Linked DNA regions of Homo sapiens. The protein of the gene in region 3 interacts with the protein of the main gene of each other region in a pairwise test. Each region holds a gene or a part of one and is shown on either strand. Other genes may lie near its edges.

Region 1 (4,173 bases), on a different chromosome or scaffold from region 3:
CGGTGGAACCCTGGGAGGGCGTCTGGTGCCGCCTCCCTGCCCCTGCTGTGTTCCTGAGGGGAGCTGAGGCTGCCCACTGAGCACAACGAGCCTCAGGTGCAGGAGGGGTGGGGGGCAGGAGGGGGTGGGGCAGAGGGCAGGAGGGGGTGGGGGCGGGGGGCACCTTCGGTCCTGCTCAGGGTCTCCAGCAGGACGTTGTACTCGTGAACTTTCTCTTTGTGATGCAGGAACTCCCGCCAGAGCTTGTCCAGTTCTTCGCCGGAGAATTTCCCAGAGGTCTTCGCCTAAGAGGGAAACAAGGCCTGGAGTGAACCCGCCGCGGGCTCGTGTGGCCAGGGCCGCTCTTCAGCCAACCACTCCTCATGGCCAGGCAGGCCCTTGCCTACGTGAGTGCCAGGCCAGGTTCTTGGCCTCACGAAGGGCAGGAAAACAAAAAACAAACCGGAGAAGAGCTGCCGGCAGGCAACCACCCTTCTCTTGGACGTGTCCAGGCTCAACAGGGGACAGCTACCGAGCTGGCTGGGGTGGGGAGCAGAAGATCCCAAGGAGGGGGACAGGGCAGCAGCCCGGTGACCCCGGGCTTGCCTGGCTCTCCCGGCTGCAGGTGGTGAGGACAGCAAGGCCACCTTCCTAGGGGGACCTCTGCCAGCCCCTCATTGTCATCCCACCTGCCTCCTGGTTGTGAGATGACGTGGCTCACACACGTCCAGGGAGGCCACACAGGGCCCTCTCTCCCTCTCTGCCCCCTTCTACCGACTCCATCTCTCCTGGCCAAGGACATTGAGCTGAGACTGGGCTAGTACAAGAAGTCTAACTGTTGACCCCAAATCAATGTGATCCAGAGAAACTGTTCTGGAGCAGGAGCCGCTGGAAATGGGGGAGCTGCGGCAGGTAAACACCCTGCCACAGCCCACCAGGCCCTGCTGGGTCCCAGCGCCTGGCCCCGCACCCTTCCCAGGCACAGGGTGAAAGCCCAGCCCCACACACGAGGGCACCTTTCTAATCACAGAGGCACGTCCACGGCACCACTCACTACATTAAAAATCCGACACGGAGTAAAGAACGCAGCCCATGCTACGTCACCATCCCGTAACCACACGTGACCTGAGCTGAAGGTCTGACAGCTGCAGGCCAAAGGCCAAACAGAGCTCCTTTACTCAAAGAGCAAGGAATCTTCTAAACAGGAAAGCTGAAAAGATTCACAGAATGACAGTGGAATGGCTTCCTTAGGAAGCCACCGTCTTCCTGAGACTTTCCCAAACCCCGGCTCCCATGCAGAGCAGAGACTGCCCCTCACAGCCCCCGCCTTAACACTCAACGTAACGGCACCAATTCTGCAAGGTATGCAAACAATCGAAGAGTACCTTGTGCCACAGCTTTTCCAGCCTGGGGTCATCCAGCCCGTCTTCCTGGGTGCCACTGAGGGAGTTGCTGGTCACCTGCCGAGCGTCCTTCTTTCCGTCCAGACCATACTTGGCCAAGATGACTAGGAGAGAGGGGAGGTTCTATTTGATATGGTTTCCTGTGAAAAACAGTCAAAAGCCAACACATCTGGGTTGCCACGGTGGGTGAGACAGGTTTGCCTCTCATTTTCCAGTAGTTTCCTTTCACCTGTTTCCTGGATGACCACTGGAGATCTGGGGAGAACAAGAATGTAAACAAGCGTGGGGTCTGTGGTCTCCCAGCACTTAGGAACGGGTCTGGCGACTCACGGGACACCCCCAGGACCTCCCTCTTTCCTACCAGGGACACGCCGGCTGGAGTCCTCCATCAAGCTGTGTCCCCCTGAGACGCAGCTGTCGAAAGCAGCTGGTGGGCTGGGCTGTAAGAGTGGTTACCGATTGGCCCGTCTTTAGCGACCAGCTGCACAGATTTTCAAGAACAAAATTTGCAGCCTCACCTGCTGCCATAGGGCAAAAACTCTAAGGACCACAGGACAGAGGCCACCTGCAGACTGTGCAGGGTGGCAGGGCTTTCTGACAGCACACATCTTATATTTATTGGGAGGAAAAACAGTTTCTAAAGGAGAAACGTCAGTGTCAGCAGCTTCTAACAAAAAGTTACTGGTAGCAGCCAGGAGGAATAAATAGTCTGCAGTGTGCTGTGGCCCAGCCACTCGGGGAGCCCTCTAGGATCTGCCCACGTGGTGCTCCCCTAGCCCCGCTTCCCTAGGGGGGACTCGGCATCTGTGGGCTGTGTCTGTCACCACACGCTGCCACCAACATGATATGAAAGCAGGCGCTCGACGCGGGCCCTGGTGCCAACAGGACAAGTCCTGCACTTGGGATGTGAGAGCAGAGCCTGGGGGCTGGCCTCGCCCTCCACGGCAGTAGCTCTCCCCAGGCCCCAATTCCCACTTCCAAGTCCTGTGCTGTGGCTCTGTGTGACAGGCCCTCTACTAGGTCCCCTGGAATCCGGGGCCCATGCAACCACACCCGCCTCCTTAGCGGGCGGTGGGCTTGCCTGCCCGCCCTTTCCTGGGGGCTGGGGGAATTCTCCCAGGGCCCCGCCTCCCACAGAATGGGGTCCTGCCTTCCCCTCCGGGCCGAGAGGGCCCCGAGTAGGCCTCTCCCAAGATGCTGGGCTCGGAGCCTCCCTTCGCCTCACACTTCCCCTCACCCCGAGGACCTCTTCACCCAGATGGTGACTCCCGGACCCCAGCGCCTCCTCTGGGCCTTCACCCGTGACCCTACTGGACAGAACTACTCCCAGCGGGGCCTCCACATGCTCTGGGCTCAGCAGGCCCCACCCCCGCACCTCTCCCAAAGGTCCATCCTCTGTCACTGCCAGCCCTGGGGAGTGTCCCTGCTCGAGGGACACCCTGAAAGCCTCAGGCCTCCTTTCTCATCGACACCACCCTGGCCTCTGATCCCTCCTGTCTCACTCTGTCCGGAAGCCTGGGCCATGGGGGTCTCAAGGCCACACGCAGCATGTGCTTCTTGTGTTCCAGCCTGGAAGCGCTTGTGATCTTCCTAAGCGTGAAAAACCAGCCTGTGGTCTTGTCCCTGAGGAAAGCCGTCTCTCCTGACAGCAGTCAAGAGCTGCTGGCGCTGGGCACGGGTCCCGTAGATGCATGCTTCAAAGCTCAACCACATGCTGGGCCTGTCTTCCATGGCAGGGAATTTATACCTGAAATAACTATTTTAGGCCGGGCGCGGTGGCTCATGCCTGTGATCCCAGCACTTTGGGAGGCCAAGGCAGGAGGGCCGTCTGAACCCAGGTGTTCAAGACCAGCCAGGGCAGCAAAGTGAGACCCCATCTTTTAAAATAAATAAATAATTAAATAAATAATACCGGCTGTGGGGGATGAGAAAATAAATGAAATAAATACATACAAAAATACACAAACTTTTTAAAAAAGTGGCCTGGATGCCTCCTGGCCTTAGAAAGCCAGTGCCAGGCCTGCCTGTGAAGGCCGTCCTGCCCAGACCCCCAAGTCCAGCCACTGCTCAGCAGCACTGAGGTCCCACCCCCAGGCCGTGCACCCCTGAGCCCGAGAGGAGGAGAGGGGGAGACGGGGAGGGTGGGCCATGTCCTGGGGCTCTGAGGCTAGCCTGGCTCAAGCCTTCCTAGTTGGAGCCAAAAGCTCTGAGCCAGAGCCCAAAGTGGCTGGTCAGACCCCATCAAAAGGCAGAGTACCCACGGCTGCGATCAGCAGCAGGGACTATGGAAGGTTCTGGATTCTGGAGGTGCTGGGTTCTTCTGCATGGAATGGAGTCACAGAGCACTGAAGCTGGAGGCGGCCTCAGGAGCACCGAGCCCTTAGAGCTCCTGGGGAGGATGAACACGGCCCCACACTCCCTGCCTGGGGAGGACGGACGTCATCCCACACGCCCTGCCCGGGGAGGACAGACGCCACCCCACACTCCCTGCCTGGGGAAGTCGGACGCCGCCCCACACCCCCTGCCTGGGGAGGACAGACGCCGCCCCACACCCCCTGCCTGGGGAGGACGGACGCCGCCCCACACCCCCTGCCTGGGGAGGACAGACGCCGCCCCACACCCCCTGCCTGGGGAGGACGGACGCCGCCCCACACTCCCTGCCTGGGGAGTGAAGTGGCCCTGGGGGCGCGGTGGGGGTGAGGACAGGAGCGAACCCCAGAGCAGAGCAGGGCAGGGCAGAGTGGAGCGTGGCCCGTCTGTCTCAGGGTGGACCTCAGCATGGAGGGTGCCA
Region 2 (4,173 bases), on a different chromosome or scaffold from region 3:
CTTACATACAAATGCTCATAGCAGCATTACTCACAATAAGCAAAAAAGCAGAAATAACCCACATGTCCTCCAAATAAGTAGACTGACAAAATGTCGTATCTTCATAAGATGGACTATTATTCAGCAATAAAAAAGAGCATAGTATTAACACTTGCTACTCCTTTTTTTTTTTTTTTTTTTTTTTTTTGAGACGGAGTCTTGATCTGACACCTAGGCTGGAGTGCAGTGGCGCCATCGCAGCTCACTGCAACCTTTGCCTCCCAGGTTCAAGCAATTCTCTGCCTCAGCCTCCTGAGTAGCTGGGATTACAGGCGCCCACCACCACACCCGGCTAATTTTTTTATTTAGTACAGATGGGGTTTCACCATCTTGGCCAGGCTGGTCTTGAACTCCTGACATCGTGATCCACCCACATCGGCTTCCCAAAGTGCTGGGATTACAGGCGTGAGCCATCGCGCCTGGTCAACACTTGCTACTTCTTTCACTTATGGGAAGTAAAAGAAATCAGACACAAAAAGGCCACATATGTATTACAGGATTCCGTTAACAGAAAATGCCCAGAATACGCAAATCCTTATAGACAGAAAGTAAATGCTAAGCTCAGTGTCTGAATCTTGTAATCCCAGCACTTTGGGGGCCAATGCAAGAGGATCACTTGAGCTCAGGAGTTCCAGACCAGGCTAGGGAACATAGTGAGACTTCACTACTACAAAAAATTCCAAAATTTGCTGGGCATGGTGGCGCACACCTGTAATCCCATCTACTTGGGAGCTGGAGGCAGGAAGATCGCTTGAACCCAGGAGGTCGATGCTGCAGTGAGCCATGGTCGAGCCACTGCACTCCAGCCTGGGTGACAGAATCAAAACTCTTCTCAAAAAAAAAATTTAGATTAGTTACTGGAGGGATAAAAGAAAGGGAGAACAGTGAATGACTGCTAATGGATAAGAAGTTTCTTGTTGGGAATTTGGAAATGTTCTGGAGTTAAATAGCAGTGACAGATAGCTAGGGATAAGTAACGTGCCTGAAGTCTCAGCTACTCAGGAAGTTGAGGGGGAAAGATCACTTGACCACAAGAGTTCAAGGCCAGCCTAGGTAACACAGCAAGACCTCATCTCTAAAAAAACAAACAAAAGAAATTAACAAAAAAGTTTTCAAAAGATAGTAGTGATGGATGCACAAACTTGTGAAAATACTAGAAATTTATGAACACTTTAAAAAGGTGAATTTGGTGAGGCGCGGTGGCTCATGCCTGTAATCCCAACACTTTGGTAGGCCAAGATGGGAGGATCATTTGAGCCCAGGAGTTCAAGACCAGCCTGGGCAACACAGTGAGACCTCCACAGAAAATTTAAAAGTTAGCTGGGCATGGTGCCGTGCACCTCTGGTCCCAGCTACCTGGGAGGTTGAAGCAGGATCACATGAGCCCACTGAAGATCAAGGCTGCAGTGAGCTGTGATTGCGCCACTACACTCCTGCCTGGGCAACAGACTGTGGCCATGTCTCAAAAAAAATAAAATAAAAGGGTGAATTTTATGGTATGTGAATTATATCTCATTTTTTTTAATTAAAAAAACAAGTGAAAGGATTGCTCAACTCAATGTTCACTGCTCACTGAGAAGGCTAAGATTTGACAATGCCTTCATGGTCATACTCAGTTCCAAGAATCCCATCTACCAACTAATCACAGCAAAAAGACTTTTTTAAAAAAAGGGAGGACGGCCAGGTGCAGTGGCTCACACTTTGGGAGGCCAAGGCGGGCGGATCACTTAAGGTCAGGAGTTCAGAACCATCCTGGCCAACATGGTGAAACCCCATTGCTACTAAAAACACAAAAAAAAAGGCCGGGCGAGGTGACTCACACCTGTAATCCCAGCACTCTGGGAGGCCGAGGCAGGTGGATAACAAGGTCAGGAGTTTGAGACCAGCCTGGCCAACATGGTGAAACCCCGTCTCTACTAAAAATACAAAAATTAGCCAGACATGGTGGCACATGCCTGTAGTCCCAGCTACTTGGGAGGCTGAGGCAGGAGAATCGCTTGAACCTGGGAGGCAGAGGTTGCAGTGAGCCGAGATCGTGCCATTGCACTCCAACCTGGGTAACGAGCGAAACTCCGTCTAAAAAAAAAAAAACAAAAAATACAAAAAAAATTAGCCAGGCGTGGTGGCAGGTGCCTGTAATCCCAGCTACAGGGGAGTCTGGGGCAAGAGAATTACTTAAACTCGGGAGACAGAGGCTGCAGTGAGCCGAGATCACATCACTGCACTCCAGCCTAGGCAACAGAGAGAGGCTCCGTCTCAAAAGAAAAGGAGGGAGGGCACTTGTGGGAGGACATACATGTGCAAGTTGCAGTAAGTAGAATTTTCCCTTCACACCCAATCCATTGAAATCCAATCATCCCCATCTTCAAATATATTCCCAATACTACTATTTCTCCTCACCACCATCTCTCCCCAGGACTAGCTTGACAGCCTTCTGACTGATCTCCCTACTTCCACTCTTGTGTTCCCATGATCTGTTCGAACCCATGATGTGTTCACTACCCAGCAGTCAAACATTTTTGAAAATGTTTATCACATCACTTCACTCAACACCCTTCAAAGGGTTCCTAACACATTCAGATTTTACTCAAGTCCTTACCATGTCCTATAAGGCCCTACAATTGTACTGGCCCTTTGTGACCCTCTCTGACCTCCTCTCCTACCACTCCAGCCCTGATGGCCTTAATGTTCCTTAAATGTATCACACTCAAACATGCCAAGCACACTCCATCTCAGGGTATTTGCACTTGTTTTCTGCAGGGAATGCTCCTCCCCCAGAAACCTGAATGGCTCACTCTATCACTTGTTTCACAGCACACTTAAATGTCATCTCGAAAAGGCCCTCCATTATCACCTAATCTAAAGTAACCCACCCTCTGTCACTCTAACCTCTTATTCTGATTCCGTATCATTTCTCTTCAAAGCACTTAGCATTATTTTTTTTCTTAACGTGTGTCCACCATAGTAGAAAGTAAACTCCACGAGGGTAAGAACTCTTGTTCTATTCACTGCTGCATCCTCAAAACCCAGAACAATGTCCGGTACAAGGAAAGTACACAATGTGTTCAATGACTGAATTCACTGGCTGACTTGGCAAAAACATTCTTCAGTGACATAGGTACTCACCTAGTATTTTTTTTAATTACAATAAACAAAGATTTAGCAATTTGGACAGAAAACATGTTAGTATTTTACAAGATTACCTATTCATCTAAAGGACCACAAATTTATAGCACAAAATTTGCCATGTTATGGATCTTAAATCCCTTCAAATATCATAGATATGAGGTTAACATTCACACCAGATTAACCAAGCCTCTGACTTCATCCTACCTACTTACTCTTACATCTTAACTAGCAGGTCCAATGACAGCATGCTTCAAATGACAGTAACATCTATCTAATTTCCTAAGAAAAAAACCTCCATCTTCTTCCTACCCCAGGATGAGTTACTAGGTCCTGAATTCTACTTCTTTTAAGACAGACTCTTGCTCTGTCGCCCAGGCTGGAGTGCAGTGGCGTGATCTCGGCTCACTGCAAGCTCCGCCTCCCAGGTTCGCACCATTCTCCTGCCTCAGCGTCCTACAGGCGCCCGCTACCAAGCCTGGCTAATTTCTATTTTTTGTATTTTTTTAGTAGAGACGGGGTTTCACTGTGTTAGCCAGGATGGTCTCAATCTCCTGACCTCATGATCCACCCACCTCAGCCTCCCAAAGTGCTGGGATTACAGGTGTGAGCCACTGTGCCCGGCCCTGAATTCTACTTCAAAAAGGCTCAGATCTATCCTCTCTGCTCCACTTCCAATGCATTAGTTCAGGCCCTTATTCATTTTCCACTTGGACTTCTTACCTGGAATTTCCATCCTTACATTCAGCTCTCCCCTTGTTTTTGCAGTGGCCTGATCTCAGCTCACCGCAACCTCCAGCTCCTGGGTTCAAGCAATTCTCAACAACTTTCAATGGTTCCATGTAGTTTTCAAGAAAAAATTTTTTTTTTTTTGAGACAGAGTATTGCTCTTGTCACCCAGGCTGGAGTGCAATGGCATGATCTCGGCTCACTGTAACCTCCACCTCCCGTGTTCAAGCTATTCTTCTGCCTCAGCCTCCCTAATAGCTGGCATTACAGGCTCACACC
Region 3 (4,173 bases):
GTGCTAGACACTTCAACTTCTGAAGTTGCATCTGCTACATCATCACCCTGAATAACATCTGTCCTCTCTCTTGTGGTTTCTTCTAATACAGCTACAGCAATTTTGCCACATGGTGACTCTCTGGGAGTGCTTGACCGAGAAACATGAGGTGTTATCAAAGAATCTTTTTCCTGGGCTGTTTTTGCTTCATCAAAAATTTTCTTAAACGAGTCTGCAACATCCTGTAGTTTAAAACGAACAGCTAAATGCTCTACTTTTCTTTCTCCATCTGCAAAATCACATGCAGTCCACAACCATACTCTTTCTGTCCCTTTCATATTTTGCAAAGTCATGTCTGGAGTTATTCTGTGATTGGCACAAAGTTTTAATACTTGGTCCCTTCTCATCACTATACGAACTTGCTTATTATCATAATTCTGTAAAATCTTTATATCACCAATGCCCCTTTCTTTCCATTGACCAACATCTTTATCATATCTGTAGAGTTTTGCCCTGTGACTAAAAACAACTTGTTCATTTTCCTCACCACTGGATACTTCAACTAGATCAGGTAAAGGAACAACAGGTTCAAAGTACTGTCCATCTCTCTCTTCTTCTTGAGTAACATCAGATTCTTCATCAGTGCCAACTGAAGTCCCACTCTGATTCAACTTGGCAGGAGACTTAGATGGACTCAAAGCAGATTTAAAACTGAAGTTAAATCCTGTTGTTGACTCACCAAAACGGAAAAGATTTTTTCTCACAGGGCTACTTGCCAATGGAGAAGCATGTACTGAGCTACTACTGACACTATCATCCAAAGCATCTTCCCTTAAATCATAGTTATCCCATTCTAATGTGGGCCCAGTGTTTTCAGGATTGGGTTTTATTGTTGTGTCTGAGGCACCGGCCGCACCTGTACCTGAACCCTTATTTTCTTCCTCAGTGACTTTTGTTTGATCATTTGTCAAAAATGTTTTGAAATCTTTCAGTCCACTCTTCATTTCTTCAGCTCTCTGTATTAACTTGGCAGCTCTGCCAGTATCTACAAGTTTATGGGGAGTTTGAAGTGGTATGTCTAACAGAAGCCGCTGGCATTCCTCAAATTTCTGCTTGAATTCTTCAGCCAGCTCTGGTGTTTTAAATTTTGCTGCCAACTGCTCTAGTTTGGCATCACCATCAGAGAAATCACTGGCTAACCACATCCATGCTCTATCTGATCCAGAGAGAGGCTTCAGGTTCATCGTAGTCGTTATCCAATGATTAGCACACACTTTTAGTACTTGTTCTCTTCGCATCAGCATTCTTAGTTTGCCATTGACCTCGTTTTTGAGAATTTTTAAGTTCCCCAAGCCCCTTTCTTTCCACTGACTTACCTCAGCATCAAATCTAAATAGTTTTACCCGCTGTGAATACAGAACTTTTTCATCTTCTTCTCCTGTTACAAGTTCTACTTTTTCGGGCATTTGAACTACTGGTTCAAAATGGATGTCATCGCTGTCCTCAGTCTTATAGGCATCATCATCTTTCTCAAAGTCACCGGAAGTGTTTGCTTTATTGGCCATTTTACCGTATTGTGATGAGAATAATTTTTCTCCAGCACCTGAAAATCCCTTGAAATTGGGGTCTTTTTTGCCAAACTGAAATCCTTCTCCTGAAGTTGATTTTGCAAGATCTGCAAATGTAAAAGTGCTACTTGTTTGGCCAAAAATCACACCACGGCCATTCTTCTGGCCACTAATATCCTGAGCCTGGAAGCCAGTACCATTTTCAAGAGGCTTTTCACTTTTCTTTTCTTGATTTCCTGGTTCCGAAATGCCAAATTTAAATCCATCAGCAGACACAGGGATGGAAAATCCTTCTTTGGTTGACTTAAATTCTGTATTAGAAGAACCCTGAAACATAAATGAAGGTGAATTTTCTTGATCCACATGCCCAAATTTGAATCCTTGCTCTGTATTGCCAAACTTAGAAGCTTTTTCTGAGAAATTACTTTTAAATCCTGTTCCCACCTGACTTCCAGAAGAGTCATGCAACTTCATTTCTGAGCCCAGTGTGAAAGCTGAAGGAGCTTCTGCAATAGGTTTATGAGTTGGTTTAGAGGCATCACAAGCCACACATTTTAAGGAAGAACTCTCATTTTGTACACAGCAAACACTACAATCCCACTGTCCTTTCCTGATGAACATTCCTTCAAATCCACTCTTTGGAGCCTTGCTTATCTCCGAAGAGGCAGGTGTTGAAATTGCAGTTGTTTGATTTTGTTTACTTGGACACTGACAAGCAATACATTTGGTAGCACTGGCTTCATTTCTTACTAAGCACACACTGCAATCCCACTGTCCTTCCTTCTTAGTGAACATTCCCTCAAATCCGCTCTTTGGAGCCTTGCTTGTCTCTGAAGAGGCAGGTGTTGAAACTGCAGAAGTAGTTTGATTTTGTTTACCTGGATTCTGACAAGCAATACATTTGGTAGCACTGGCTTCATTTCTTACTAAGCACACACTGCAATCCCACTGTCCCTCCTTCTTAGTGAACATTCCCTCAAATCCGCTCTTTGGAGCCTTGCTTGTCTCTGAAGAGGCAGGTGTTGAAACTGCAGAAGTAGTTTGATTTTGTTTACCTGGATTCTGACAAGCAATACATTTGGTAGCACTGGCTTCATTTCTTACTAAGCACACACTGCAATCCCACTGTCCCTCCTTCTTAGTGAACATTCCCTCAAATCCGCTCTTTGGAGCCTTGCTTGTCTCTGAAGTACCAAACTTAAAAGAGGCAGGAGCTGGAACAGAAGTAGATGGACTTGGTTTATCCGGATTCTGACAAGCAACACATCTTGTAGCATTTGCTTCATTTCGCACTAAGCATGAACTGCAATCCCACTGTCCTTCCTTCTTAGCAAACATGTCTTCAAATCCACTTTTTAGAGTTTTACTTGTCTCTGAAGTACCAAACTTAAAAGAGGCAGGTGTTGGAATAGAAGTAGCAGGTAGACTCTGTTTTCTCGGATTCTGACAAGCAGCACATTTTGTAGAGCTCCCCTCATTTTGTACCAAACATGCACTGCAATCCCACTGTCCTTCCTTTGTAGAAAAAACAGATCTGAAATCACTGTTAATAGGTTTAGGAAGATCTCCCTGGCCAAATTTAAATGAAGCTTGATGAACAAATGAAGATCCACTTTTGTTAGCAGATTTTGTATTCTGACACGCAATGCACCTAGATACAGTAGGTTCATTTCTTACTAAACAAATACTACAATCCCAGTGACCTTCTTTCTTTGGAGTCACCAATGCAAATCGATCTTGAACATTCTCTGGGCTGGTTTTAGGAGTAAAAACAGTTTCAGCTAATGGTGGGCCAACGAGCTCTTTATTGCTTGGGTTTAGATTTTGGCATGATACACATTTCTTAGCAGTTGAAGCATTCTTTAATGAGCAGCTGTTACAATGCCACCAAGACCCTTCTTTCTTTGCAACCTGAAATTCAAAATTCAGGTTTCCAGCATCAGATTTGCAAATATCCTTGTTATCATGACTTGTGGGTTCTTTTACAATTCTGACAGCCTGATTTGACGCCATGGCTACATTTGTTCCTGGGGCTTTTAAAATGCTCTGGGCTTCTTCAAACTTGCATTTAAAAAGTGCTGCTTCCTCAGGAGTTTTGAACCTAATAGCAAGTTGTTCTGGTTTTGGCAACTCATCTGCATAATCAAGGGCATGCCATACAAAAGATCTGTCTGATCCAGCATTTGGTGTCAATTTCATATCTGGACTGATGTAATGATTTGCACAGATTTTCAATACTTGCTCTCGTCTCATTAGAAGGCGAATTTTACCAGATGTTTTATGCCTCAGTATTTTTACATTGCCAATCCCACGTTCTTTCCATTCTTTGGATTCTACATCGAAACGAAACAATTTCGCGCGGTTGCAAAAGAATTCTTCTTCATCTTCCTCACCAGTTTTTACTTCAATCTTATCAGGAAGAGGTACTACAGGCTCAAAGTGAGGACCGTCATCATCATCATCCCCATGGGCACTTCCTCCATCTGTCTCATGATTCTTGTTTGCTGTCTCTAAAGTGGGTGTTCCAAATACTGATTTCCCTGGACCATGGAAAGTAAACATATCATCACTTCGCCGAAAACCAGAATTCTTTTGCTGACTCGACCCCATGTTTTCTGTAAATGAA
Region 4 (4,173 bases), on a different chromosome or scaffold from region 3:
AGATGGGGAAGAGCCGGTGAGGTGGGCAGAGCAGGTGCAGATGTCCCCCGTTCACAGCTGGAAGGGCAGGGAGGGGCCCAGAGGCTAGAGGACGGGCTGGGGCCAGGAGGGAAGCCTTTTAGCTGAGACTTGGCACGTGATGGGTTTTCATTTTCTTTTTTCACTGAGGTAAACGTCACATAACGGAATTAGTCATTCATCGTTTTAAAGCGAACAATTCAGCAGCACTTAGGACATCTGCAGGGTTGTGCAGCCACCGCCTCTACCCAGTCCATTTTCATCCCCCAGAGGAAGCCCTGTACCCAATAGCGCTACCCCCTGGTCTCCCCTGGCAGCCACCGATTTGCTTTCTGTCTCCCTGGATTTACCTACTCTGGACATTTCATACACATGGAATCCTAGCTATGTGACCCTTGTGTCTGACTTTGTTAGCTCAGCACAACGTCTTTGAAGTTCATCCATGCTGCAGGGTGCCGGGTGTGTCCATGCAGAAATCCTGTTTTTAGAATTCTTTTTTTTGAGACAGGGTCTTACTCTGTCACCCAGGCTGGAGTGCAGTGGTGCAATCTTGGCTCACTGCCTTCTCTGCCTCTGAGCTCAGGTGATTCCCCCCCATCTCAGCCTCCCATGTAGCTGGGAATACAGGCACGTGCCACCACATCCCGCTAATTTTTGTAGAGACAGGGTCTCAGTATGTTGTCCAGGCTGGTCTCGAACTCCTGGACCCAAGTCATCCTCCCACCTTGGCCTCCCAAAGTGTTGGGATTACAGGCATGAGCCACTGCACCTGGCCTTTATTTCTTTTAAATTTTTTTTTTTTTTTTGAGACAGGGTCTTACTCTGTCACCCAAGCTGGAATGCAGTGGCATGATCATGGCTCACTGCAGCCTCCAACCCGCAGGTTCAGGCAATCCTCCTCCCTCAGCCTCCCAAGTAGCTGGGACTACAGGTGCTGGCCACCAGACCTGGCTAATTTTTTGATTTTTTTAACAGACAAGGGTCTCGCCGGGTTGCCCACTCTGGTCTCAAACTCCCAGGCTCAAGCGAGCCTCCCACCTCGGCCTCCCAAAGAGCTGGGATTACAGGCATGAGCCACGGTGCCTGACCCCTTCTTAGCGTTGAATGATGTTCCTTTGTCTGGGCCGACTGTTTTGTTTGTCCATCCCTGCGCTGATGGGCGCTGGGTTGGTTCCACCTGTTGGCCACTGTGAGTAGTGCGCCATGAGTGACATTTTTTTAAACACTGGATGTGCTTTTCTCACCCCTTCTTTCGTCTGTGTCTTGTGTGTAATCGTGTGATCCTGTGGCCCCGACCCGCCTGGTCCCTCCCTGTCCCCACACTAGGAGTGGTTCAACGTCTATGAACGTAACAGGCACACTAGCTGTACTGTGTCCGACCTTATCGTGGGCAATGAATACTATTTCCGAGTTTACACCGAGAACATCTGTGGGCTCAGTGACTCACCTGGTGTCTCCAAGAACACGGCCCGCATCCTCAAGACAGGTACAGCCATCCTGCCCCACAGCCCAGGCCCACCCCGTCCACCCTCTCGCCCAGGTCCCACCTGGACTCCTGCCCTCCCCTCCCCACTGGGGTTGACGGCACCTAGTCATGGGAGAGAGGTGATTGCGGTTTGTTCCCTGGTTGGTGTCAGGGGAGAATCTAGATCAGTCGCCTTACGGGTGCATCCTCTCTCCCCAGGAATCACCTTCAAACCGTTCGAGTATAAGGAGCATGACTTCCGGATGGCTCCCAAGTTCCTGACACCTCTCATAGACCGCGTGGTCGTGGCTGGGTACTCGGCAGCCCTCAACTGTGCTGTCAGAGGCCACCCGAAGGTGCCAGGGCAGGGACCCAGATCTGCGTGTGTGTTGCCTTGTGGGGAATCTTCCATACAATGAAGCCCACTCCCCATCACGCCAGTTCTTCTTCCCCGAGTTCTCTGTCTCAAGGGATTTAGTCACTTAAAAAATTTTTTTAATTGATTTTTGATTTTTTTTTTTTTTGAGACAGGGTCTTGCTGTATCACCCAGGCTGGAGTGCAGTGGCACGATCACAGCTCACTGCAACTTTGACCTCCTGGGTTCAAGTGATCCTCCTACCTCATCCTCCCGAGTAGCTGGGACCACAGGCATGAACCACTGTGGCCAGCTAATTTTATAATTTGTAGAGATGGGGTCTTGCTATGTTGTCCAGGCTGGTCTTGAACTCCTAGGCTCAAGTGATTCTCCCGCCTCGGCCTCCCAAAGTGCTGGGATTACAGGTGTGAGCCACCACGCCCAGACTGGACTTGCTCACTTTTCACCCACTTCCTGTTAGCTCCTCTGACCAGAGCCCAAGTCTCAGACAATCAATCACATCTTGCCTTTGGCTTCCTGCCTTTTTCCTTCTTTCTTTCTTTTTTTTTCTTTCTTTCCTGAGACCAGGCTGGAGTGCAGTGGTGCGATCTTGGCTCACTGCAACCGCCTCCCAAGTTCAAGCGATTCTCCTGTCTCAGCCTCCTGAGTAGCTAGGATTACAGGCGTGCACCACCATGCCCAGCTAAATTTTGTATTTTTAGTAGAGACGGCGTTTTGCTGACCTCAGGTGATCCGCCTGCCTCAGCCTCCCAAAGTGCTGGGATTACAGGCATGAGCCACCGCTCCTGGCCTCTTGCCTTTTTCTTTGTCCCCTGACTGCCAGGTAACAGCTTGTCTCGGCAGCTTGAGGAGAGGACCATTAAGTCTCTCTTGCTCTGTCCAAGGACAAATGCCAGTCCCATGGAAAAAGAAACGTTGGGAGCAGGGGCAGCCTAGACCAGCACGGCTCCCCAGGGTCTTCCTGTCCAGCCATTTTCCAACTGCTCTTTGTGAACAGGGACACTTGCAACCTAGAGCTCATTTAGACCAGGGGTTGGCAAACCATCACCCATGGGTCAAATCCACCCACCACCTGTTTCTCTCAATAAAGTTTTATTGGAACACGGGCCAAGCATATTTGTTTATGTTTTGTTTACAGCTACTGCAGACAAAATGTAAATAAATGTGCGTGGCTCGCGTTCCAGGCCCAGAGACTACAGGGCCCAAAAAGCCTGAATTATTTACCATCTGGTCCTTTATAGGAACAGTTTGCCAGCTTCTGGTCTGGGCTGTAGGTTATTCGCTTCAGCCTCCTTAAGGCATACCATGTCTCCATCTCTGTATACTGTATTCACTAACTCCACTCATTCATGTCACTCATTCCACTCATTTATCCACCTACCAATCCATCCATTTACTCAGTTCATTCCTTCACTCCATTTGCTTATTTACAGCACTGTTTCGTGCTCTCATTCATTTATTCACTCCATTTATTCTTACAACAAACATTTTCAGAGGCTTTCAATGACCTGGGTGATTCGAACAAGAAATTTCCTGTATGTTGGGGGAGACTGACATTTGCCCAGAGTCACATAAATAATATAAAATTATGAAGGGCTGGGCCAGACACGGTGGCTCACACCTGTAATCCCAGCACTTTGGGAGGCCGAGGCGGGCAGATCACCTGAGGTCAGGAGTTTGAGACCAGCCTGGCCAACATGGTGAAACCCCATCTCTACTAAAAATACAAAAACTAGCCAGGCATGGTGGCAGGCGCCTCTAATCCCAACCACTTGGGAAGCTGAGGCAGGATAATTGCTTAAACCCGGGAGGTGGAGGTTACAGTGAGCCAAGATCACGCCACTGCACTCCAGCCTGGGAGACAAAGCGAGATTCTGTCTCAAAAAAAAAAAAAAAAGGGAAGGGCACTATGGAAGAGGGAACAGCCAGTGCCAGCGTCCTGAGGTGGGTGCCTGTCTGGTCTGTTTGAAGGACAGTGAGGTAGCCTGTTTGGCTGGAGCAGAGAAGTAATGGGGGTCAAAGAGTGTGGGACCCTGTGGGCCACTACAAACAGTGAGCTCTTTGTCCTGAGAGCAATGGGAAGACCCCACCGTTACCCTGTGAAGTGGGATTATCAACCTGCTTTTACATAAGAGGAGACTGAGGGTCAGGGAGAAGTGACTCGTCCAAGAACATCTGGCAAGAGGGTGGCAGAGCCTAGAACCCAGATCGGCTTCCTGAGCCCCATTTTGTCATCATTGCCCAGGGTCTCTCTCTAAGTTGGCCTCCTCTCCCTTGACTCTCAACAGCCGAAGGTGGTCTGGATGAAGAACA
Region 5 (4,173 bases), on a different chromosome or scaffold from region 3:
TGAGTCCTGCCTTGCCTATCTAACAGGATGGCTGTGGAGATCAAATGATATCTAATACTTGAGAAAGCATTTTGAAAACCGCAAAATGCTGAGAGAAGAAAGAGATTGTTAATCTTATTAATTACGAAGAGTGACACCTGATTCTGCAAGCACTTTGCTAACATGACTCTCTGTGCCTCTTTTCCTTTGGGAATTTGGGAATAATTCAAAGTTTGCAGAGCAAGGACAATCTTTTCTTCAAGTCCCTGGCATCTGGGTGTTGGAAAGCGGAGGTTTGCTCTGGGAGAAGGAGGAGGAAACAACAATATTTGCATTCTACTTGTGTTTCTCTTTAGGAACACAATCTTGGCTGAGATTCTATTGCCTCTAGCACACCGAGCCCTCAAACAACATTCAACGCATATTTATTGAGCACCTACTATGTGCCAAGCACTTTGATCCAAGATGATGGACTCACATGGCTTCTAGGTGTGGAGGTGGTGGTCTGGGGGTGGGGAAATTAAAGGAAGAAGGGACAGCAATGTGAAAGGAAAGCAGTGGCTATAGTCCTTGGAGTTTTGCAGACTTCACAGCTGACCTACCAGCTTCTTTCCATGGGGGTGGGGTGGGAGCTGGTCAGGGCTCACAGCACAATGGAACGAGCTGTGAGCACTGGAATGAATCAACATCCTCAGGCTGAGTTCCAGCTCTGTCTCTTAGCATCATAACCACTGGCAATCCATTCATTTTCCTGGCCATCAGCTTTCCCATATGTAAAATAGGTAGGCATGTTCCCATAGGTAAAATAGGGAGAATCAAATGAGATGATGTTTGTGAAGGGATCCAGCAAAGTGGTGCCTGAAGGTGCTCAATAATAAACTCATTAAAAAACAAAACAAAACAAAAAAGCGTTCTCTTCTTCCCATTCTCATGAGGACAAACTACACACTGGCCCAAAGCGTGGGCTCTGAGATCAGACACCTGGGTTCCAGTCCCAGCTCTGCAGTTTACAAGCTGTGTGACCTTAGGCAGCAGACATTACCTTTCTAAGGCTCAGCTTCTTCATCTGTGAAAAGGTGATAACAGAATCCACCCATAGGGTGGTTGTGAGAATTAACCCAAATACTGCACGTGATGCTCCTAGTACATGGCAAACACCCTGCAAAGGTGAGCTGCTGCTAATTACATCTCTCTGAGCCTTTAAAAACAACAAAACTCCAAGTGCGCAGGCTGGAAACTAAGATTCAGGCTACTTGGTTAGTGACTGGCTGCCTAGGCACCATTCACCCTTTGCTCCTTGTCCCAAGACTTCCAGAGGAAAAACATACAAACGAGGAGTCATCCCTGTCCCTTCAGTCTCCCTCCCCACACCTTGCAGAAGGTGTTCCAGCCCCTTTCCTGCCAGGTTCCTCTCTTTTTTTTTTTTTTTTTTTTTTTTTTGAGACGGAGTCTTGCTCTGTCGTTAGGCTTGAGTGCAGTGGTGCAATCTTGGCTCACTGCAACCTCCGCCTCCCAGGTTCAAGCGATTCTCCTGCCTCAGCCTCCTGAGTAGCTGGGATTACAGGCACGTGCCACCATGCCCGGCTAATTTTTTTTGTATTTTTAGTAGAGACGGGGTTTCACCATGTTGATCAGGCTGGTCTCAAACTCCTGACCTCGTGATCTGCCCGGCTCAGCCTCCCAAAGTGCTGGGATTACAGGCATGAGCCACCGTGCCCAGGCCAATTTTTTTTTTTTTTTAATAGAGACGAGGTCTCACTATGTGGCCCGGGTTTTTCTTGAACTCCTGGCCTCAAGCAATCCTCCTGCCTTGGTCTCCCAAAGTGCTGGGATTATAGGTGTAGGCCACCATGCCCAGCCTCTATGCACAATTCTAACACACTCAGATGTCTGTTTTCCCAGAGATTTGGAGGGACTGCTCTTTGAGCCCAGCATAAATGATCACTACATGATAAACCACTTCACACTCATTAGGATGGCTATTATAAAACCAATCCAAACCTAATCAACAAAAAGCAGAAAATAACAACTGTTGGTGAAGATGTAGAGAAACAGGAACTCTTGCACCCTGTTGGTGAGAATATAAAATGGTGCAGCTGCTGAGGAAAGTGTTATGGGGGGTTATTCAAAAAAGTAAAAATAGAATTACCTTTTGATCCAGAAATTCCACCTCTGGGTATATACACAAAATAACTGAAAGCAGAGACTCAGAGAGCATTCACCTTTTGCTCCTGGTTTGCACACCCATGTTCACAGCAGTATTATTTACAATAGCCAAAAGGTGGAAGCAACCCAGGGGTCCATCAATGGAGGAATGAATAAGCAAAATGTGGTATATACATACAATGGAATATTACTCAGCCTTAAAAAGGAAGGACATTCTGACACATGCTACACCATGGAACCTTGACAACATTATGCTAAGTGAAACAAGCCAGCCACAAAAGGAGAAATACTACATGATTCCACTCATATGAGGTATCCAGAGTAGTCAAACTCATAAAAGAGAAAGCAGAATATCAGTTGCCAGTGGTTGGGGGGATGAAGAAATGGATAGTGCTTAATGGGTAAAAGAGTTTCAGTTGGGGAAAATGAAAAAGTTCTGGAGATGGGTACTGGGATGGTTGTACAACAATAAATACAAAGAATGTACTCATGCTACAAAACTATAGACTGAAAAATTTGCTGTTACATACAAGTAAATTTTATGTCATATCTAGGTAACCACTTAAAAAAAAAGAAAAAGGAAAGAAAAAAAAGAGAAGTGACTACTGTCTACCAGGCAGAAGACACAGCAATGATTGTAGGTGGAAACATGAACCCCCAAAGCCCAACAGCTGGGAACCACGTAGTTTGGGGCCCACTGCCCTAGAGTCTCACAAGCCCCGTGGCCTCACACTACTATAAGCACAGTAACTGACCGGGTAGGACTGGCTCTTCCCACTCAGAGCCTTGAACAGGATTTAAGAGCCTTCCTGCAGTGCCAGTGTTGCTACTTGGAACCTTGAGGCAGGGCACTCCCGGAGTGGGCTCTCCCCCAGCAATTTCCCTCTGCCCACCACTAGGTCCCTCCCCCACCCCAGGTCTCTTCTTTGGGAGGTAACACTTTTGAGAGAAAGAACCTTTTGTGGTCCCACTCTCACCAAGCAGGCGCTCTGTACACACCGGTATGAACTCAACAACCCCTAGTCCCAAACCAGAGGTTCTTTCTGAGCTGTATATTAATATTTTGCTCAGAAGCATATCATTCGTTTCAGAAAGATTCCCATCCAAAAATAGTTTTTAAACATTTCTTTTATAGTTTTGCTCCTTAAAAAAGAGTAAGCTTCAATGATCTAGTGGGAAAAATCACTGGCTATGGCTTTTGTGTGTAAAAATCCTGGTAGCTTGGAATAATAGAAACTTTCTAAGATCACAAAATCTCTTTTCATCCAGGGTCTCACTTTAATCTTACAACCTCTCTGAAAGGTGATCAGGGTGGCAGTCACCTCATGGCACAAATGGGGAAACTGAGGCTCAAAGAGATCAAGAGGCTTGTCCAAAGTCACACAAACAACTAGGAAGGAGCAGAGACCCCAGGCTTCATTTTCCACCAATGCCAGATGAAACTCTGTGTTGGGACCTCATATCTGAGCACACTGTGTAGCCATGAAAGTAATTTTTAAACCACCATTAGCTTATTTTATCTCCATAACATCTCTGTGAAGGAAACTGGAAATATTATCTTTTTAAAACGGGGGATCAACTGAGGAAGAAACAAATGACCTGCCCAAGATTACCACTCAAGAAAGTGGCAGAGACTAGACCTCCTCTCCTTTGAATACACTTGACCTCAACCACTTCCCTATAATATCTTGACCTCCACACACTCACAACTTAAAGGAGCACATGCAGTTTTTATGTAGGTTGCACCATGTTTCTGTGAACTAGGCAGGGGACAGACATACCTTTGTTCTCTTTCTAATGGCTGGGTAAGAAAAAAGAGGTTATAGAAATCTTTAGGTTCCTTTTCAGCTCTAAAATTCTATGATTCTAAAAATTCTCCAGCAAGTTGATGGGTAAGAGATGCCTGGAATCCACATCACCTAACTTCCTCCCTTGTAGTCTATTAGGCCACCCTATCCCTGCCCTGCGAGTTAAGGACTACAAACATCACGTGTGCCTGGAAGAGGGGGGTCCACTCTGACATAGGTG
Region 6 (4,173 bases), on a different chromosome or scaffold from region 3:
GGGCTTCTTCGATGTCTCCATCCTCCAATTTCAGGGCGTTCTAGCAGAGGCGGACCAGGATGTAAGAAAGTGGTTAACGTGTATGCAGGTGGGGTGGGGCGCTGGGGACTGCGCTTCTCTCTTCCCTCTTTCCAATCCGCCTCAGAGCGTAAGGCCCGGCCCACCTCGTAGAGCACAAGCTGCGTGCGCAGGTCGACGTCAGTGCCCGCAGTGCCCAGGTGGCGCTGGACCAGCGCTTCCATGCCCTGCTGCTCCAGTGCATCCGTCACATCGTAGAAGGAGTCCTGGTCCGGGAGCGCCGCCAGCGTCTGGAGGGCGGGGATAAGAAGGCAAGGCTGAGGTTGGTGGGGAGGTCAGGAGCCTGAGCATCCCAGAGCTGGCACCCAGTCCTTGGCCACACCTTGTTGATGAGGGTGACCGTGTACACCAACAACTCAGGGTCAGCGCCATTCTTCTCCTCCAGGATGGACACCAGATTGGCCCAGGGAGGAGCACCTGCCACACAGAAAGTGGAGCAGTCATGGGGGAACAGGTAGGAGAGAGGGCTCTGAGCGGTGGGGGGAGAAAGGGACAGTCTCTGACCGGTGGTGCTGGCCACAGAGTTCACTGCACGGATGAACAGCGGTGCGTTGTTTTCGGAGTATTCTACAAACACCAACAGCAGCTTCAGGGCTGTCTTCACCACCAAGCGGGACTGAGGAGAGAGGTCAGTACATATGAGTGGGGCTTAGGCCAGACCTGTGCCAGCTGTTGCTGGGGAAGGGGAAGGGCTGCTGGGGCTGGACCCAGAGAGAATCTAGGCAGAATGACCCTGGCCCCAGGCCCAGGCACTGAAGTGCCTTATAGGCTTACAGAGGCCTCAGACTCACTCCCTTCCAGCTCACTTTGCAGAACAGGAAACTGAGGCCCAGAGAGAAGCAACAGGCAAAGGGTATAAGGCTGAGTGGAGAGCCACTTACCAGGCTGGCACACAATGTGTACAGCCACTGAATAGTGTCACTGTGGGCCACCACCCCCAGCATTCCATCCACAAAGAGCATCAGCTGGCCGAGCGCTGGGGAAACAGGGATGGGCAGAGTCAGCGAGGGTCGCTGGAGCAGAGGTCATGGGAGAGGGGCGGGGCTGACCTCTAAGGATGTAGCTCTGGTAGTTGTGGTCGGCAGCAGCACCCACACGGATCAGGCAGCTCAGCCCCTCTGAATGCACAAATTCAGGCACCAGGTCTTTGTCCTCCTAGAGGCACCATGGGGGAGTTTAGGGAAGCTTGGGCTACACACTTACCCCCAGCCCACTGCGGGGCCTCACCTGGAAGATCTGCTTCAGTGAGAAGAGGGAGCGGCGGAGCTCAGGACCACTGGAGCTATACAGCTTTTCTGCAAAAGGTAGGGTATAAAACCCTTGATGGACACAGACTCACTGTCTTCCTCTGCTTGGATACAACCACAACTCTCCACCAAAGAATAGTCTAATATATATGTTTTGGTCTGAGAGACAGGGTCTCACTCTGTCACTCAGGCTGGAGTGTGGAGTGCAGTGGCACAGTCATAGCTCACTGCAACCTCAAACTCCTAGCCTCAAGCAATTCTCCCACCTTGACCTCTCAAAGCACTGGCATTGGAGGCATGAGCTACCACGCCTGGTCTATTCTAACATTCTTGAATCCCCCTCCACTCCCACCATGGCCCTGGAAGAAGAGGTCAGGATAGGGAGAGGAAGGAGCACATACAGCTAAACCTACTTTGCTCACTGTTCAGCACAGGCCTGAAGGTGAGCCAACTGGGCTATGGGGAGGAGGTGCTGCTGGACATGGATGCTCTCACACACTCACCCAAGATAGCGTTGACCCTCACAGAGAGCTGGGTCCGAAGGATCAGCGTGGGCTTCCGCCCTTTGCTGGAATCAAGGATCTCTGTTAGCAGCTCCCAGCCTATCCCTCAGCATTCCTCCCCACAAGCCAAGGGAGCCAAAGACCTCCCCATGCCAGCCCCAGCCCAGCTTGTTCCTCCCAGCTGCTCCTCCAAGAACCCAAGGGTTGGTCGGACAAGAGGGTTGGTGCAAACACATGTATCTCAGGTATGTGGGAGAGCCCCTAACTCCCACCTTGGGCAGCAGGTAACACTGGCCAGGCTTTAGAATTCCCCTGGCACACTTCCCTGGGGCAGGAGGTGACCCATGGCTCAGGCTAGTGATCGAGTGTCTCAGCTGCTGACATTTGAGCTAGCCCCTGGCAAGGGTGGGGGTAACCTTGCCTCCCTGGCCCCATCAGTTCTGACCTGATCTCTTCATAGAAGCCCTCCAGCATCTCCCGCTGCTCTTCCAGGGACAGCTCGGTGTCCAGGTAGTATCCGGAGGGAGACACTTGCAGAGCACAATCCTCCAACTGGGGGCAAAGGGAACAGCTGTGAGACTGAGGAAGAGGTGGCAGGCGAATGTATGAAGACCCCTGACCTCTTACCTACCACTTGAAGGGTGGCAGAGAGACACAGGGTCTGCACTACAGCTGTGCATTCCTTCAGCAGTTGCTTCTCAAGCACCTACTATGTGCAAAGCCCATCTGTGTCAGGCACCAGGCTTTCTTGGCCTTTGTTTGTACCATCTCCTCTCCTGGCTGATACCTACCTATTCTTTAGGTTGCTATGCAACCCACTCCACCCTGTGTGTATGCTCCCTTTCGAGACCTTCCACACAGCATTCTAATATCCGAGCCACTGGTCTCCTCTAGCTGCGTTCTCTGCGTTCAGGCACTCCGTCTGTCTTGCTCCCTGCTGTATCTATAGAGCCTGGCATAGCACCTGACACACAGTAAGCACTCACTAGGACTTGTTGAGCTAATAAACACAGATGAGGAAGGGGAATGGAGAGAAGATGGGAGGAAGTTCCTGCCTTCGAGGAAGCTCACAGCCCTGTGGGGTGATAAGCTATAGTCACAAAGCATTAAGCCCCAGAAAGAAAGTGTTAAGATGGCTGGGAGGTGCAAACCCACCCGGGAGAGTGTGTCTGTGTGTGTGTGTGTCTCAGTGAGTAAGAGGGTGAAGACAGGGTCTGATCCATAGACTTCCCAGTCCCACCAGATTTCAGGGTCTTTGGCCTCTCCCAAAGTGGGCTACAGTTACAATGGTCCTAGCTGGACCTCAGAGACACCCAAGGGGCCTATTAAAAAACTAACTTTAGGCCAGGCGTGGTGGCTCACGCCTGTAATCTCAGCACTTTGGGAGGCTGAGGAGGGTGGATCGCCTAAGGTCAGGAGTTCTAGACCAGCCTGGCCAACGTGGTGAAACCCCGTCTCTACAAAAATGCAAAAATTAGCCAGGCATGATGGCGGGTGCCTGTAATCCCAGCTACTGCTGGGGAGGCTGAGGCAGGAGAATTGCTTGAATCCAGGAGGCAGACATTGCAGTGAGCCGAGATCATGTCATTGCACTCTAGCCTGGGAGACAGAGTGAGACTCTGTCTCAAAAAACAAAACAAAACAAAACACTTAAGAGTCTGACTCAGTCTACAGTAGGACCCCAAAGCCTGCCTTTGTAACAAGCAGGCACATGCTCCATCCACGTGTCCATGTTTCCCTCCCCGGGCTCTCCTCCCCCGCCACAAGGCATGGCACTTAGCCCCTTGAGAAGTGCCTGTAGAGAAGCCTGAGGGAGGTGACTCCTGTGAGTCGGAGGGTGGCACTCTACCTCTCCCAGACACCTCCCTCCATTGCACAGTGCAGATATGCAGGTTCAGCAAAGTCTCCTTGACTTAAGTGGCTCTGGCCCTTGAGATGCCTTGGCCCAGGGAGAGCCCACCTCTGGAGAGGCAGGGTGTCTTCTGGTCTCCATCTTACTGGGCATGTCAATTCCAACATTTGTCCTGCTGTTTGGTCAGCCCTGCCCTCTTCTGGACCCTGCCCAAGGGCTTCCAACTGGCCTTGGTCCCCTGGAGAAAAAGGGAGTCCAGCTCCTGCCTCAACCCCTACCTCTGTTTAGCAACCCTTGCGCCTGCCTCAGAGCCTGACCTGGCTCCTTCCCCACAGTTTAGCCTGTGGGGCCCTTGGATGACCCCCCCCCCCGCCCACCCCCGCCTGGGACCTGGGACATAGGACAAACACTCCAGCCTGTTCTCTGTCCCACTTCCTGCCTGGCTGCCTGCCCTCCCCAGGGTGCCTTGGGCAGGCCTGGCCACTTTCCCCTC
Region 7 (4,173 bases), on a different chromosome or scaffold from region 3:
AATTCTGAACCATCTCCAACAGAAACAGTATGTTTGATTCATAGATATACACACATATATGTATACACATATATATTTATATATAATATGTATACATATGTGTATATAAAATCAAATCATATATATATGAAAAAATGGTGGGCATATAAGAGAAACAAACTCTATGAAGTGATCTTATATTTGATCAAGGCATGATGAAGAAATTATATTTCATCACGTTTGAAGTTTAGAATCACTTCCTCCTCATACTCACCCCTCAAATAAACAGTAAAGTCACCCTCATCATCCTTTTTTCTCCAGTGAGCAGTTTCAAGTGTTTCCCATCTCTCACTGGGAAGAGCTTGAGGAAATGGTGACTATGAAAGCTTGTTTTATATGGGCTGCCTTCCAGTTACCAAAACACTTTTTATTTGTGAAAATAAAAATGACTTTATCCCACACTCTTCTTGACTGTGTATGTAAACTCTATTATCTTCTCTGGCAAGGATGCAATCCTTTTTATGGAAATGGAGACAGCTTTCTTCTTATTTAGATAAGAACCATTTTTGTTTCTGAAAGCATCTTTCTTGTATTGTGACAGGCACAGTATACCTTTGAGTTGTTCCACTAACATTAAGCAAATATGAGGGTTATGGTTTGAGAATGTAAGCTTTGAAAAAGGACAAAGAGCTTCATTAACATACTCTTAGTCAAGAGCAACACTTCGTACTAAAAAATGGACCATTTTGTCTATTTTTGTACAGAAAAATAGAGAAAAATAGATTGTGTTCAGGATTGCATGGAAGGCATTTATTCAGGTGCTGGGAGTTGATCTAAACAACAACTAACGTGCCCTTTAAGCCTAAGATTCAAGTCTAAACTCAGAGAAACAAAACTTAGCTATTTGATGATAGCATGGAAAAATTATTATTATTATTATTTGTGAGACGGAGTCTTACTCTGTTGCCCAGGCTGGAGTGCAGTGGTGCGATCTTGGCTCACTGCAACCTCCACCTCTTGGGTTCAAGTGATTCTCCTGCCTCAGCCTCCCCAGTAGCTGGGACCACAGGCGTGTGCCACCACATCTGGCTAATTTTTTGTATTTCTAGTAGAGACAGGGTTTCACCATGTTGACCAGGCTGGTCTCAAACTCCTGACCTCAGGTGATCCACCTGCCTCGGCCTCCCAAAGTGCTGGGACTACAGGCGTGAGCCACCATGCCCGGCCACATTTTAAAAATCTAGATATTAAAATTTTATATCAACTATTCCTATAACCATATAAGAAAATGTCTCCTTAGCTTAAACCTATTCACAGGGGAAAAAAACCCCCAGAAATAAACATACTAATATTTAATATCTGTGGCTGGGCTTGGATGGTATAGTTTTTTCCCCAATAAGTAAGTGAGAAAGTGTATTTTATTCCAATGTCAAAGGTCACATAACTTACAATAAAAGTTTGACTTGGGTTGAGAAACAAAAACTCAAATTTCATATTGTTCCATGGCCTTTTGCTATTCATCTGCAATGACATCCTGAAGCATGATAATATTAATGGCATTTGTTTCTCTAACTGACACGTATTTGCTGTCCAGAAGATTGCTGTATTTGCAGAGTTGTCATTTTGATAAAAAAGAAAAAGACATCTTTTTTGCACAGCTTTGTATTACTTAGAAAAACAAAAAACCCTATAACCATAGCTTAGCTTTTCTCTCGTCTCAGTCCACAAGTGAAACTCACTGTTTGACTTTTATCAGCACGTTTTGTTCTGGTTTACGCTAAAGGATTTTTGGATAGCAGGAGATACACTGCAATTTAGTTATTTTTGTGTAGGGAATGTCTGTCCTGAAGTACCAAGTTACATAAACTGGCCGTGCAGAAATCTGGCCTAAGAGTCTCATAAGGAGTAGAAATCCTTTGGTTCATTAGTAGAACTGAATTGTTCTTATCTTGGAGCATTTCAAACACCGGCCTCTTGGAGAGGATGTCAGTAAGAATTAGTCATGACGCAAAGTCATGGAATGTTTCAAGGCTCCATCTGACTGGCTGCTATAGCCCTTAACCTAATCTCAACCTTTAAAAAAAAAACAATTTAATCTCCTTTTTCTCATTTGTAGTATTGTAAATATTCATATTTTCTAACCCCCAAATGTAGGACACAAGGGCTAATACATGCTTGACAAGAGGTCAGAGTATTTAAAATTAGGATTATGCCTTAAAATCCCATCCTTAGAATAACCATAGTCATAAATTAATACTCATAGACTTGCAATAGAAGCCTCTGCTAGAGCTACAACTTGGAAAATTACCCTTAAACTCCAATTCTGGAGAGATGTTAGCAAAACGTGGGCTCCCATCCTGGTCTAAACTCACTTTGTGCTTAGTAAATACTTGCTGAATTACTTACATGCTGGGGTGACGGATGCAACCATGATGAAGGATCACTGGGGATTTGGTACTTCGGTCAGATCTATCTAGTTGGCCTCATTTCTTGCATCTCATATTAACGAAATTGGGTTTAAAAATTAGGAGAAATTCTTGCATGGAAAAATAAGTTGCAAAGGATGCAGTGCAATATTGGATGTGTGCTGTGTAGGGAAAAGGAAATGCAGAGTCCCTTCTGGTTGGTCCAGGTAATGATAAGAGGCTGAGTGGTCAATAAGTGCATGTCTATTGACTTTAATTCTTAAAAGCACCATATAGTCTCTTTTTCTCATGTGTCACCTCCAGGTGATAAATTGATGACGGTGGGAGGAAGCAGGTCAGCCTGGGCATCTCTGCAAAAGGCTAGATACAAGTGAGAACTCTACCTCAAGAACTTTCCTTTTTTCTTCCACTATTTTCTTCTAGCAAAGAAAATGTTGACTAGAGGTGTCATTATTCACCAGCCCACCTAGTATGTCAGGGGGAGTCGCCATCAGCATTCAGATCCCTTCTCATTATATTTATTATCTGTGCCATCCATTTTCTTTTGCTCACTTACCCCAAAGAGCAAAAGTCTTACCTAGCCTAAGTATCCCACTCAACTTTCTTTTCTTTTCTTTTTTTTTTTTTTTGAGACAGGGTCTTGCTCTGTCACCCAAGCTGGAGTGCAGTGGTGCAATCACAGCTCACTGCAGCCTCGACATCCTGGGCTCAAGCACTCCTCCCACCTCAGCCTTCTGTGTAGCTGGGACTTACAGGTGTGTACCAACATGCCCTGGTTAATTTTTAAAATTTATAGAAATGGGGTCTCACCATGTTGCCCAGGCTGGTCTCAAACTCCAGGGCTCAAGCAATCTTTTTGCCTCTGCCTCCCAAAGGATTATAGGTGTGAGTCAATGCGCCTGGCCCCACTCAACTTTCAAGATTACTTTCCATGCAACAGCTGAGAGTGATGGCAGAACACCATTTTGAGAACTGGCTCCCAGGACAGGTCCTGGCAATGTTAGAAAATGCACAGCTCATTTTTAGGCCCTCCAGTTCCTTTCATCCATTTGTCAGCTATTTATTGAGCTGTGGGCTATTTATTGAGCTGGAGGGACTCAGAGGGAAGACAACAGCCTCAAGGTTCCTGCCTTCATGAACATATTCTCTGTCCTGCTCACTCCTTTTGGGGCTTATTTTCTCCTACTTTTGCTTTTAGTGGATTTTAGATTCAGACTCTACCTTCCCTTTAGTCAAAACTCTACGACAACAATCTAATAAACTCATTTCCTCTAAAGATTACATTACTCAGGATCCTTCTTCTCCAGGAGAGATTATATTTTAACTGAAAATAAAGCTTTGTTCCATTTGTCACGACCCTCGTAATAGCAATGAAGAAGGCATTCCTAGCCTCTAGGATGTCCTATCATGTAGGCAGCTAACTATCTCACCAGCAAGAAACGCCAGGAGACTTTCGGATCCCAGCCTGGGGTGGGGGTAACGTACTGATAATAAGGACAGCTACCACTTACTTGAGTATTTCTATGAATAACTCAATGTGCCAACTTCTCTGCTTGTATTATTTTATTCTAATTTTTGAGAAGCCCTAGGAGACACATGTACTGATGTTATTCAACATCTTTTCACAAAAGAAATCAGAGGCTTATGGAGACAAGTAGAAAACTTGAAGGACAAATTCAGGAGTTGATTTTCTTGAAAGGGGAAATACTGCTAAACATAAATTACAAATACGTTTTCAGTTCCCTTTCATCAGTTATATAGAACAACT

The links.
Region 1: the proteins of RANBP2 (region 3) and LRPAP1 interact in a two-hybrid assay, tested with the Homo sapiens proteins (one large-scale study listed by BioGRID and IntAct).
Region 2: the proteins of RANBP2 (region 3) and ARID4B interact in a two-hybrid assay, tested with the Homo sapiens proteins (one large-scale study listed by BioGRID and IntAct).
Region 4: the proteins of RANBP2 (region 3) and MYBPC2 interact in a two-hybrid assay, tested with the Homo sapiens proteins (one large-scale study listed by BioGRID and IntAct).
Region 5: the proteins of RANBP2 (region 3) and UBTD1 interact in a two-hybrid assay, tested with the Homo sapiens proteins (one study listed by BioGRID).
Region 6: the proteins of RANBP2 (region 3) and FHOD1 interact in a two-hybrid assay, tested with the Homo sapiens proteins (one large-scale study listed by BioGRID and IntAct).
Region 7: the proteins of RANBP2 (region 3) and PDLIM3 interact in binary tests that used the Homo sapiens proteins (3 or more experiments, as listed by UniProt).

Annotation. Positions count from the first base shown.
Region 1 is NC_000004.12:3,518,708-3,522,880, forward strand, and holds part of LRPAP1 (alpha-2-macroglobulin receptor-associated protein precursor), read right to left. Parts: intron 1,487-4,173; coding exon 1,365-1,486; intron 285-1,364; coding exon 164-284; intron 1-163. UniProt on the Homo sapiens protein: Molecular chaperone for LDL receptor-related proteins that may regulate their ligand binding activity along the secretory pathway.
Region 2 is NC_000001.11:235,318,008-235,322,180, forward strand, and holds part of ARID4B (AT-rich interactive domain-containing protein 4B), read right to left. Parts: intron 1-4,173. UniProt on the Homo sapiens protein: Acts as a transcriptional repressor. May function in the assembly and/or enzymatic activity of the Sin3A corepressor complex or in mediating interactions between the complex and other regulatory complexes.
Region 3 is NC_000002.12:108,763,866-108,768,038, reverse strand, and holds part of RANBP2 (E3 SUMO-protein ligase RanBP2), read right to left. Parts: coding exon 1-4,173. UniProt on the Homo sapiens protein: E3 SUMO-protein ligase which facilitates SUMO1 and SUMO2 conjugation by UBE2I. Involved in transport factor (Ran-GTP, karyopherin)-mediated protein import via the F-G repeat-containing domain which acts as a docking site for substrates.
Region 4 is NC_000019.10:50,460,198-50,464,370, forward strand, and holds part of MYBPC2 (myosin-binding protein C, fast-type), read left to right. Parts: intron 1-1,344; coding exon 1,345-1,504; intron 1,505-1,702; coding exon 1,703-1,839; intron 1,840-4,148; coding exon 4,149-4,173. UniProt on the Homo sapiens protein: Thick filament-associated protein located in the crossbridge region of vertebrate striated muscle a bands. In vitro it binds MHC, F-actin and native thin filaments, and modifies the activity of actin-activated myosin ATPase.
Region 5 is NC_000010.11:97,505,021-97,509,193, reverse strand, and holds part of UBTD1 (ubiquitin domain-containing protein 1), read right to left. Parts: intron 1-4,173. UniProt on the Homo sapiens protein: May be involved in the regulation of cellular senescence through a positive feedback loop with TP53. Is a TP53 downstream target gene that increases the stability of TP53 protein by promoting the ubiquitination and degradation of MDM2.
Region 6 is NC_000016.10:67,237,075-67,241,247, forward strand, and holds part of FHOD1 (FH1/FH2 domain-containing protein 1), read right to left. Parts: intron 2,381-4,173; coding exon 2,274-2,380; intron 1,894-2,273; coding exon 1,829-1,893; intron 1,812-1,828; exon of another isoform or gene 1,739-1,811; intron 1,374-1,738; coding exon 1,306-1,373; intron 1,234-1,305; coding exon 1,128-1,233; intron 1,055-1,127; coding exon 960-1,054; intron 695-959; coding exon 583-694; intron 496-582; coding exon 401-495; intron 309-400; coding exon 165-308; intron 41-164; coding exon 1-40. UniProt on the Homo sapiens protein: Required for the assembly of F-actin structures, such as stress fibers. Depends on the Rho-ROCK cascade for its activity. Contributes to the coordination of microtubules with actin fibers and plays a role in cell elongation.
Region 7 is NC_000004.12:185,518,381-185,522,553, forward strand, and holds part of PDLIM3 (PDZ and LIM domain protein 3), read right to left. Parts: intron 1-4,173. UniProt on the Homo sapiens protein: May play a role in the organization of actin filament arrays within muscle cells.